Regions from separate parts of the Homo sapiens genome. Here regions 1, 2 and 4 are each linked to region 3. Evidence: fine-mapped expression QTL. A gene starts in region 3. Each other region holds a variant in brackets. All regions are shown on one strand. Distances are between the middles of the regions. Region 1 has its middle 51 kb from the start of ATOSA. Region 2 overlaps ATOSA (atos homolog A). Region 3 holds the start of ATOSA (atos homolog A). Region 4 overlaps LOC107983981 (a long non-coding RNA gene).

The links. PIP is the estimated chance that this variant, and not a neighbour inherited with it, causes the effect.
Region 1: its variant is fine-mapped to the expression of ATOSA in whole blood (TOPMed, PIP above 0.99).
Region 2: its variant is fine-mapped to the expression of ATOSA in blood mononuclear cells (TOPMed, PIP above 0.99).
Region 4: its variant is fine-mapped to the expression of ATOSA in anterior cingulate cortex (GTEx, PIP 0.99).

What each region holds. Positions count from the first base shown.
Region 1 is chr15:52,728,855-52,731,543 of GRCh38, forward strand. No RefSeq gene overlaps it. Among named protein-coding and RNA genes, the nearest start is that of ATOSA, 51 kb to the left of the region's middle. The variant C/T (reference allele first, on the strand shown) is at 1,537.
Region 2 is chr15:52,655,074-52,657,762 of GRCh38, forward strand. All of the region lies in intron 2 of ATOSA (atos homolog A), which reads right to left. Among named protein-coding and RNA genes, the nearest start is that of ATOSA, 23 kb to the right of the region's middle. The variant T/C (reference allele first, on the strand shown) is at 1,087.
Region 3 is chr15:52,678,280-52,680,968 of GRCh38, forward strand. It overlaps ATOSA (atos homolog A), which reads right to left and starts at 1,109. Exons shown (of 13, transcript NM_001385016.1): 1 at 549-1,109. LOC105370821 (a long non-coding RNA gene) reads left to right here and starts at 1,326. Exons shown (of 4, transcript XR_932255.4): 1 at 1,326-1,414. RefSeq lists an enhancer at 5-144 and a silencer at 725-1,044.
Region 4 is chr15:52,841,463-52,844,151 of GRCh38, forward strand. The region is part of intron 1 of LOC107983981 (a long non-coding RNA gene); the gene reads left to right. Among named protein-coding and RNA genes, the nearest start is that of ONECUT1, 52 kb to the left of the region's middle. The variant C/T (reference allele first, on the strand shown) is at 1,045.

The DNA.
Region 1 (2,689 bases), 51 kb after region 3:
ACAAAAAGATCACATCTCAGGCCTGATTCCAGGGAGCCCTGGAGTAATGAAAAGACCTTTCATTATTGATCAGAAACACCCCTGAAAGGAAATGAAAATTGAAGGGATCAGATCAGTAATCCTAATTTATTTAGCAAGTTCTGATCTTCCTGAGAAACAAAAAAAATAATAGAAACTAAATTTATCTTGCACTGCCTCAAACCGGAAAGGAAAATACAGTCACCTGTTGTGACTCATTTGCAGTCTATTTTGTAATGGTTTCCAGATTCCTCTTCCAATTAAAAAGCAGGCCAGAAGAACCAAGATTGTTTAGTTAAGTCTGTTTGGTAATAGGTTTTAGACCGTAACTACATAAAGTCACTTACAATAAGGGATCAGAGTCTGTAAATGAATTCTGATTTTAAAAATTAGTGAGATTTCAGGGTTCTGCAATTAATTGGGTCATTTCATTTTGCTGAAGAAATAAAAAGGAATGAAGTGCAAAACAAATATTTAATGGTCATATAGCCACATGGTCATAATAATTTTATTATATTAGGATTTCTTTCTTTTCTCTCTCTCTTCTCTCTTTTTTTTTTTTTTGAGGTGGAGTCTCACTCTGTTGCCAGGCTGGAGTGCAGTGGCGTGATCTCAGCTCACTGCAACCTCTGCCTCCCGGGTTCAAGTGATTCTTGGGGTTTCATTTTTAAAAAGCTAATACATGAATCCCAGTCAGGAAGAAGAGGGACGATGAATAGTTAGGAAGCTGAAGGGGTAGAAAGAGGAGAATGGAGATGTAAAATGCAGAGACCGCAGCAGAGAGGAGTTGGCTTCCAAGGCTACCTTTTTTGAGGTGACTCAGAAATCTGGAAGTAGCCCTCCTCCCTTCCAGCCCCAAAGGGCTTCTTGAGGGGTTCCAACAAGCATTTGGAGTCTGGACAGCTATAAACTGTATATTACCCTGTCCCTGCCTTGCAACTAGGTGTATTCTATATCCATGATACAAGAGAAGCCCATTCTTCATTGACTGAGAGACTGCTAGGAGGTCAGGATTGTTCTTAGACCAGTTTGAACCCCAAAAACCTAAACTGAATTTGATTTAGATTCTTGAATAGGCTCCAGTTTCTGAAAGGATCACATAGCCTTGTAATCAGAATGCTGGTGGTTTCCGAAGCTGTTGCCTTTCTTTTTTAACCAAACTCACCACCTGCTTAAATTTAGCCTTCTTTTCTCTTTATGGAAGGGACAGTTATCTCCAAATGGGTCTAAACTCAAGTTACTTTCTAGCCCAGCAGTTGCTCAGCTGGTAGCTTGTGGGGATATATTTATTTAAGTGAAGTGTCTGCATCCTCTTCTGTTAATCAATTCTGGAAATCAACATCTCTCCACTCCTTCTTTTGGTGAGAGAAAAATCCACCCTCCCCAAATCTGCAAAGACTCTGCATAGCACACATGCTTCAACTTTTGTCCTCTTCTCACAGATGGCATGATCCATTTCCTGTTGACTTGGTTTGTCTCACGCACGTGCCATTAGATCTAATGACTAACGCATGCCAC[C/T]TTCTGAAGAGAACCTAAATAACCTTCCTGTAATTCTAGTTCTTTTGTAATAGACCCAAATCTGGTTTCTCTTCCTGGTCTACTTAAGGCAAATGCTATGGAGGTAATTTTTCTATCCCCTTGCCAAAGGATGTGAGGGTAAGGTTAGCGACCCACTGCTGCACTGCACTTCTGCTTCAGAAGCAAAAGAAAGACAATAGCCAAAGGGTTACTGGAGAAGCATAATAAATAGTTTTCACTTATTACAGCTTTTATGGTCCAATTCTCCAAGGTGCATAAAACCAGCACATTGAGATAGGGCAAATGAGTCTAAGTGTTATATCGTGGCTTTCTTGTCTCATAGTACACCCCGGAGAATACCTGAAACCCTGCGTTAGCCAACACCAAGGTTAAAAATACCTCTCTCTCCTCTGGCTGGGGGAGAGAGCAGGTTTCACCTTGTCGAGGGACAGTGAAGGCCATAGCCGCACTTTCTTGACTAGGACATTCTCTTGCTGGAGACCTGCCTAAATACAAGTATAGCCCACCATAGAATTTCTCCCAGAAACATGGTCGGCTCCGTCTTGAGCTGTCATCATAACTTCAGAAGAGTTGGGAAGGGCTTTCTTCTAGCAAAAACTACCTCCTCTACCTTAATAGCTAGAGAGTCAGCCACCTGAAATTCTTTTCCTTTTTTCCTTTAAAAAAAAAAAAAAAAGACAGACTCTTGCTATATTGCCCAGGGTGGTCTCGAACTCCTGCTTTCAAGTGATCTTCCCGCCTAGTCCTTCCAAAGTCCTGGGATTACAGATGTGAGCCACCCTACTTGGCCAGCCACCTGAAATTCTATCAGTGACAGATTCCTTTAGCTGAAGTCATGTTCAAATGTAATCCTCCCAAGAATGGTAACATTATACATCAATGCATTAAACAAAACAACCTGTGCTTATTGAAAAAGTCATATGTGCACACGGTAAAACAAAATTCAAATAGTACAAAAGGGTATATAGCTGGGCACAGTGACTCATGCCTGTAATCCCAGCAGTTGGGGAGGCTGAGGCAGGAGGATCACTTGAAGCTAGGAGTTCAAGACCAGGGCAAAAAACAAGGCCCCTGACTCTACAAAAAAAAAAAAATTAGCTCAGCATGGTGGCATGTGCCTATGGTCCCAGCG
Region 2 (2,689 bases), 23 kb before region 3:
CCAAGTAACTAGAACCAAGTGGGTAAAGCCAGGATTCAAACATAATGTCTTCCTAAATCTAATATATGTGCCCTTAACCACTAGTATCCTTTCCCTAACAATTTCTTACATATGTTACTTACTATTTGCCGTAAGGCAAATATGGCATTACACAAAAATAAAGTTTAAATACAGAAATCTCATATAAGCATTTCCCATGTATTAGTCATTCAATAACCACAACGACAGCCTCATTATACCTCAAAATTACCATTAATACACTGCTTGTAACATGGAAAAATAGGATTTGACTGCAAACAGATAGCTGTTTTGTAGCTGTAGTGTGATCACAAAGACAACGATAAAAGGTTCAATCTGTAAAACTTCACTACTTCATGATCACAGATCACCTAATCCAGAGAAAGTGAAAGGAGGTCGAAAAGGACACTGAACTAGGGACCATCGATGTGGGTTCTGGCCCAAATCCTAGCTCTGATCAGCTTTTTGATCTTAAGCACTTCTTTGAAATTCCTCATTCTTTGTCTGCAATGTTGGTATGTTGTAAGGATAAAATAGGACAGGATAAAATTATTTTCAAAGTAGCAATGTGCTACACATATAGGATATTTCTATTCCTAATAGTCTTTGAGGGATAGGGGATAATGTTCAGATATGGTAGTGTAAACACGCTTGTACAAAATTCAACCTCATGATTGGAAAGACCCCTTAAAGCAGCAAGACATAAAGGAGGAAAGCCACAAATTCAAGCTCTTTCCACTTATAGGATGTGTTACCAAATTATTTAACCTGTCTGAATCTATTTCTTTATTTGAAAAGTGGGAATAATCATTTCTCTAAGTGCTACAAACCACCTAGGTCAGTACTCCGCTCTTAATTTGAAGTTTCCTCTTTCCCTTTGCAGACATCAGGTCTACATGATGTGACCATATGTCTGCATACATACACACACACACACACAAATAACAGCAATACATTAGCATACATTAGTTGTATACTGTATTAATAACAATGGGAATGAGACAACTCTTGATCAAAGAAAGATTTCTGTGAAGCTGATTTTTTTTTAAGTTTTTAAATAATGTCACA[T/C]TGAACAACACATTTAACAGCTGAATAATTTGTAATGAAGACTAAGCAATAGTTAAAATATAACATTATTAACAGTTGTGGAAAATACAGAAATTTATCATATCATTAAACCAGTTTTTATTAAAAAACAAAATGTGATGTTAGGTCAGTTCAGGGATAAATTAAGCCATACATTATATTGACTTCCACTTACATGAGATTCCTAGCAATCATATTTGCTGCAATGATTACCCACTGACTTGCATTCATTATAACAAGGTACAAATAAACCAAATGGCCAAACAGCAACCAAAATATACTGTTTTAAGAGTTAAACACATTCTTAAAATTAAAATGCTAAAAAGTACCTAAGAGACTTAATTGGGACTCTCATATTTCAAAAGATTTTGGGTTATGATGACCTAGATTAGTTCCAGGAGCAGTAGCTTGTTTACCAAATCTAAGATCTTGGAAAGAAGAAAATGTTCTAGCCTGTTTTTGGCATCATTCATACTACATTGTTTAAAATGAGCTAGAATGGGGGTTATTTATAAGCTAAGCTACTGGACAAACACTTCATCTAATAATATCTTGTATACACATAAGTCAGATTTAATAAGAATCAAGATCAGGTATTAAGAATTCACTTTTAATATCCTATATACTTTGTCTTTGTAAATTAGTATCACCACTATTACATAAAATGTGTGCAGAGGTGCATACGGGTTTTTCTTTATCCATACTTCTTTTAAAGATATATTCTGGGATGTTGTTAATCTCCTGCTATTACAAAGAATGCTATGTTTGATTCAATCTGAAATTGAAAACCAATCACACATTTTTTATTATAATAAAATAACATTTTATGAAAAGTTTTTCCATGAAGACAATGGATCCCATATTTACTTGTCCCTTTGACAACTGCAACTTTGTGAAATAATATTTTGTAGATGAAGAAACTGAATCATAGAAATTAAGGTAGCCGTTGGGTTACCCTGTAAGAATCACCAACTCTAGGTTTAATTCCAAGTGCTGTTTTTTTTTCCACAATTACCTATCACTGATACATGTCATTACCTCTGCTAATAGAGACAAACAGTCATACAAATGACTGATTCTGCAGTTTAAATTCTGGAGAATGTTAACAGAAATCTGGTAGAGTGACACAGTTGTATGTGTATTTAGCCAATCTTGTGTAGGTGTAAGGAGACTCAATCATTAAGTCCCCAAAGCTTTAATACTGTTTGCTTTGCATTTAACATTTTTTAAAATTTGCTTATTTGAAACTATTTCACATTGGTTTGCTTCCAAGTGATATGACTAAACTCTTTTGGCTACCTCAAACTCTAGCATGTCTAAAACTGAATTAGTTTTCCTCTGAATAAGAGTCACCATTATTATCAGTGGCATCCTCCCAATTCCCTAAGCTAACAAACTTCGGAGAGAACATACTCATTGACTGTGTGTTTAGTAAGTGCCTGGCACAACCACTTCACTCAGATTATGTCATTCTAATAAAGTTATAAAATGGTGTAAAATACTATTACTATCCCAGTTTTAATCAATAAAATGGAAACTCAGAAAAGTCAGCAACTTTAGCTTACACAGAGAAGGTAACAAAATC
Region 3 (2,689 bases):
TCTCCTCCGGATCGAGCACCCCCTTCCCTGCCTCTGTGCTCTCCAGGCCAATGTGTCCTTCTGACACAGTCTCTGAACCAAAACAGGATCTATTTATAACCTGGAGGTACAGGCAAGAAGAAGAAAAAGATTTGAGCAACACAAACTAACCCCTTCGTACAAAAACGCCTCTGGAAACAGAGGCACCTCCGCAGGGCTGGTATGGAAATTCTTCCACCTGGTGCCTGGGCGCAGCCAACTCTTCCAGTCCCCTGCGCCTCCCGAGCCCTCCGCCCGCCCCGCCGGGCCTCACCTGTGTAATTACCCTCTGGCTAGCCTTCCTGCGGCAACCGCGGCCAAGTTTACACAGAAACCCGAGTCACCTCCTCCCGCCCAGCCCCCAGCCCCAAACGAACTCTTCCGGGCTGTCCCGGGGCGACCCTACCAACTCCCAACCAGTCCTCCGCGGCCGGCTCCGGGGGAGGTGTTTACAGCCTGTGCTCGCCCCCTGCTCTGCACAACCCCTTCCGTCCCGCCGCGGCCCCGGATTTCCTTCAGCCCCGCCGCACCGAGCGCCGCGTCTGCCCCTCTCCCCGCTGGAGAGTTGTTTTCATGGCGCTCTCGAGCTGGCCGGCTCCTCCGCTCCCTCGGCCGACCTCTGCTGACTAACTCGCTCTCCTCTCCCGTCCCAATCCCGCCTCCTCTTGGCACTTCTCTCCACCGCTCGCCCAGCAGCTCACATCACACTCCCACCTCAGACCCCAGGCTCCGAGAGGCGCAGGGCCAGCGGGAGCGGAGTATGGAGCGCAGCGGCCCCCGCGGCTGCCTCAGGTGACCGTGGGGACCCGAGACGACCAGCCCGAAGCGGCTCCCCGGCGCCCCTGTGGCCATCCACCCGCGCCTCAGCCACCGCCTCGCTCCGCTCCCTGCGCTCAGCCCCTCCGCCCTGCCTGACTGGCACCCGAGCCCCGCGACCCCCGGGCTTCCCCCGCCCGTAGCCCCGGCCGGCCCTCTTGCCCAGCGCCTCTGCCAGCTCCTTGCCCGCCCGCTGTCTCTAGCTCTGGCGCCCCGGCTCCCCGTCCCCCTCGCTCGGCCAGTTCTTTCTCTGCTGTTTGCCCTGTCAAAACACTGCCTAGGTCACGTGTCCCAACAACAGCCAACCCACCCCGGTCGTCACTTCCTCCCCGGCGGCCTCCGCGGCCCTGGCGCCCGGTTACTATGGCAATGCCGCCGCTCGCCCCGGGGCGCTAGTTTGGGGCCGGGTTTTCGGTGCAGGTGCCCGGCGGGTGCGAGGGCGCTGGAGATGGCGGCTGGGAGACACCAGCAGAGTCCCGGAAGCCCGAGACGTCCCAGGCACTTCGGTTGCGCTCCCAGCCGGCAGAGGCGCGCCTGGATTCTGAGACCAGGAATCGGAGCTGCGCTATTAGAGCGCAGGGTAACTGGGGAGATGTCATCCAAAGGCCTGCCCCAGACGTGGAGGATAATTATAGTCGTCGTCTCCTCCTCCTCCTCCTCCTCCTCCTCCTCCTCCTCCTCCCCCCTCCCCCTCCTTCCCCCCCTCCTCCTCCTCCTCCTCCTCCTCCCGGGATGCTGGCACAGAGTTGTGATCGAGCCCCAAGTGGATTGCAGCGCATAATGGAACCCGGGTTTAATGTGACCGGGACGGGGGGTGGGCAGCTATGCGGGTCAGGGAGTGGGAGAATTTAAGAACAGGAAGCCCACCCCCACCCTAGATTTTCCCAAATCACTAAGGATTTTAGTAGGATTCAGAACCCAAGCTTCCAAGACACTCGCTGTGCTAAAAATAATCTTCATAACTTCTAAAACACTGACTCATGGGCAGGAGGACACTTTGACAGCATGTTATTGTTGGGGAGCTGTAATTTTGTTGTTGTGCTATAGCAATGTGACATGATGGCATTTCATGTTGTGATGTTGTCGTCATTTAAACACAAACAGATGACAGGAATCTGCTGTACTTAAAAAAAAACCCAATCCTAACAAGCGCTGCAGCTATTAGCTACTCAGTCTATAGACAAAGTACATATGGGGCATGAGCCCAAATGGAGACAAGTAAAAATTTGCAAGGCTCTTTGGTTTCATTAGAAAAAGTTTTTTTTTTAGATATAATTTTGCATAAAAGGATCACAGGAAAGTATTAGGACAAGTCTAAGGGGATTTTTTTTATTTGTGCCCTTCTGTTTTAAAATTTTTTTTACAATGAGTCTATTATTTTCACATCAGAAGAGTTTTATAAACTGCAAGATTGGCAGTTCCATTTTTTTGGCCTCAGGTAAAGTTCTTATGAAAAAGGCATGAAATATTTAAAAAGTAACATTTTCTAGTGCTTAGATATGTACAGTAAAATAACATGTACAACTGAAATTGTTAACCTTAACTCCACGATTGTATCTAATCAGAGCGGAGAGAACATTCAGGAGGGTAACATTTCATTTTCTCTGAAATGTTCTGGCATCATGACGATGAAACTGACAAATGGAAACAGTTCTTTAATCTATAAAATGCTACAAATGTTAAATCCCAGTGGATTTGACTTTGATATTATTGAATACTGTATTATGTAGTTTTTAAAAAATGAACTGAAGTTTTACTTGTTCTACAAGCACTTGGTAATGGGAGACAGAACAGTTACAGATAAGCCAAAAACCTAAATTTAGCACAACAGCTGGGACCAAATAACAGCTATTGT
Region 4 (2,689 bases), 160 kb after region 3:
CTCCCTTCTTTTATCTCCCTTTCTTTCTCACTCCCTTCCTTCCTTCCAATACCATTTTATTTGATTCGAACATATTTTACCTACTATGTGAAAAAGGGCAAATAAACCACAGATAAATAGTTAAAATTCAAAGTAATCTGTGCTATTGTAAATTTAAATGCAAAGTGCTTTAAGTTGTATAACTGAGAGTAACTGACTTTGAGTTAAGGTTAGGGGAAATGGTTCACAGAGGATGTGAAATTTCGTGTGGGTCTTGAAGGATATCTAGGAGTTCTCCAAGTGTGTAATGGTGGGAAGAGGTACCCATATGTGTGATGGAGCCAGTGAATCTGGAGAGCAGCAGGAAGTCTAGAGTGACAGACAGGTGAAGGGGTGGGTAAGATAGGAGGGAGAGGTCAAACTCATGTTCTGGAGTTTTGTAAGTGTAAACCGAGGAGTTTAGAATGTTATTCTGGTCAAAAGCTTCCAATGATGTTGCAAACTTTCTAAACAGTTTGCAACATCAGAGCTGAATATACATGATTAGTTCTGAATTTTAGTTAAAATCTCAACATTGCCATCCCCATCAAGCTACCAATGACTTTCTTCACACAATTGGAAAAAACTACTTTAAAGTTCATATGGAACCAAAAAAGAGCCCACTTTGCCAAGTCAATCCTAAGCCAAAAGAACAAAGCTGGAGGCATCATGCTACCTGACTTCAAACTATACTACAAGGCTACAGTAACCAAAACAGCATGGTACTGGTACCAAAACAGAGATATAGACCAATGGAACAGAACACAACCCTCAGAAATAATACCACAGCTCTACAACCATCTGGTCTTTGAAAAACCTGACAAAAACAAGAAATGGGGAAAGGATTCCCTATTTAACAAATGGTGCTGGGAAAACTGGTGAGCCATATGTAGAAAACTGAAACTGGATCCCTTCCTTACACCTTATACAAAAATTAATTCAAGATGGATTAAAAACTTTTTATTTTATTTTATTTTATTTTGAGACGGAGTCTCGCTCAGTCGCCCAGGCTGGAGTGCAGTGGCG[C/T]GATCTCGGCTTGCTGCAAGCTCCACCTCCTGGGTTCACGCCATTCTCCTGCCTCAGCCTCCCTAGTAGCTGGGACTATAGGCGCCCGCCACTACACCCGGCTAATTTCTTTTTTTTGGATTTTTAGTAGAGACGGGGTTTCACCGTGTTAGCCAGGATGGTCTCGATCTCCTGACCTCGTGATCCGCCCGTCTCAGCCTCCCAAAGTGCTGGGATTACAGGTGTGAGGCACTGCGCCTGGCAAGATGGATTAAAAACTTAAATGTTAGACCTAAAACTATAAAAACCCTAGAAGAAAACCTAGGCAATACCATTCAGGACATAGGCATAGGCAAGGACTTTATGTCTAAAACACCAAAAGCAATGGCAACAAAAGCCAAAATTGACAAATGGGATATAATTAAATGAAAGAGCTTCTGCACAGCAAAAGAAACTACCATCAGCATGAACAGGCAGCCTACAGAATGGGAGAAAATTTTTGCAATCTACTCATCTGACAAAGGCTAATATCCAGAATCTACAAAGGACTCAAACAAATTTACAAGAAAAAAACAAACAACCCCATCAAAAAGTGGGCAAAGGATATGAACAGACACTTCTCAAAAGAAGACATTTGTGCAGCCAACAGACACATGAAAAAATGCTCATCATCACTGGCCATCAGAGAAATGCAAATCAAAACCACAATGAGATACCATCTTACACCAGTTAGAATGGCAATCATTAAAAAGTCAGGAAACAACAGGTGCTGGAGAGGATGTGGAGAAATAGGAACACTTTTACACTGTTGGTGGGACTGTAAACTAGTTCAACCATTGTGGAAGACACTGTGGTAATTCCTCAAGGATCTAAAACTAGAAATACTAATTGACCCAGCCATCGCATTACTGGGTATATACCCAAAGGATTAGAAATCATGCTGCTATGAAGACACATGCACACGTATGTTTATTGCAGCACTATTCACAATAGCAAAGACTTGGAACCAACCCAAATGTCCATCAATGATAGACTGGATTAAGAAAATGTGGCACATATATACCATGGAATACTATGCAGCCATAAAAAATGATGAGTTCATGTCCTTTGCAGTGACATGGGTGAAACTGGAAACCATCATTCTCAGCAAACTATCACAAGGACAAAAAAACCAAGCACCGCATGTTCTCACTCACAGGTGGGAATTGAACAATGAGAACACCTGGACACAGGAAGGGGAACATCACTCACCGGGGCCTGTCATGGGGTGGGGGGAGGGGGGAGGGAAAGCATTAGGAGATATACCTAATGTGAATGACGAGTTAATGGGTGCAGCACACCCACATGGCACATGTATACATATGTAACAAACCCGCAAGTTGTGCACATGTACCCTAGAACTTAAAGTATAATTAAAAAAACTCAACATTATAGTGTAAAAATAGACAACAAAAATAATGGTAATAGCTAACATTTGTTGTGTATTTGCTATGTGTTAGAGATCCTGTGTTAGCCATTTTATATTCATCAATGCATTTGATTCTTTCCATCACATCACAGTGTGGGAGTGTTATGGGCTGAATTATGTCCACTTCAAATTCATTGGTTGAAGTCTGAACCCCTAGAACCTTAGAATGTAATCGTTTTTGGAGATAAGCTCTTCAAA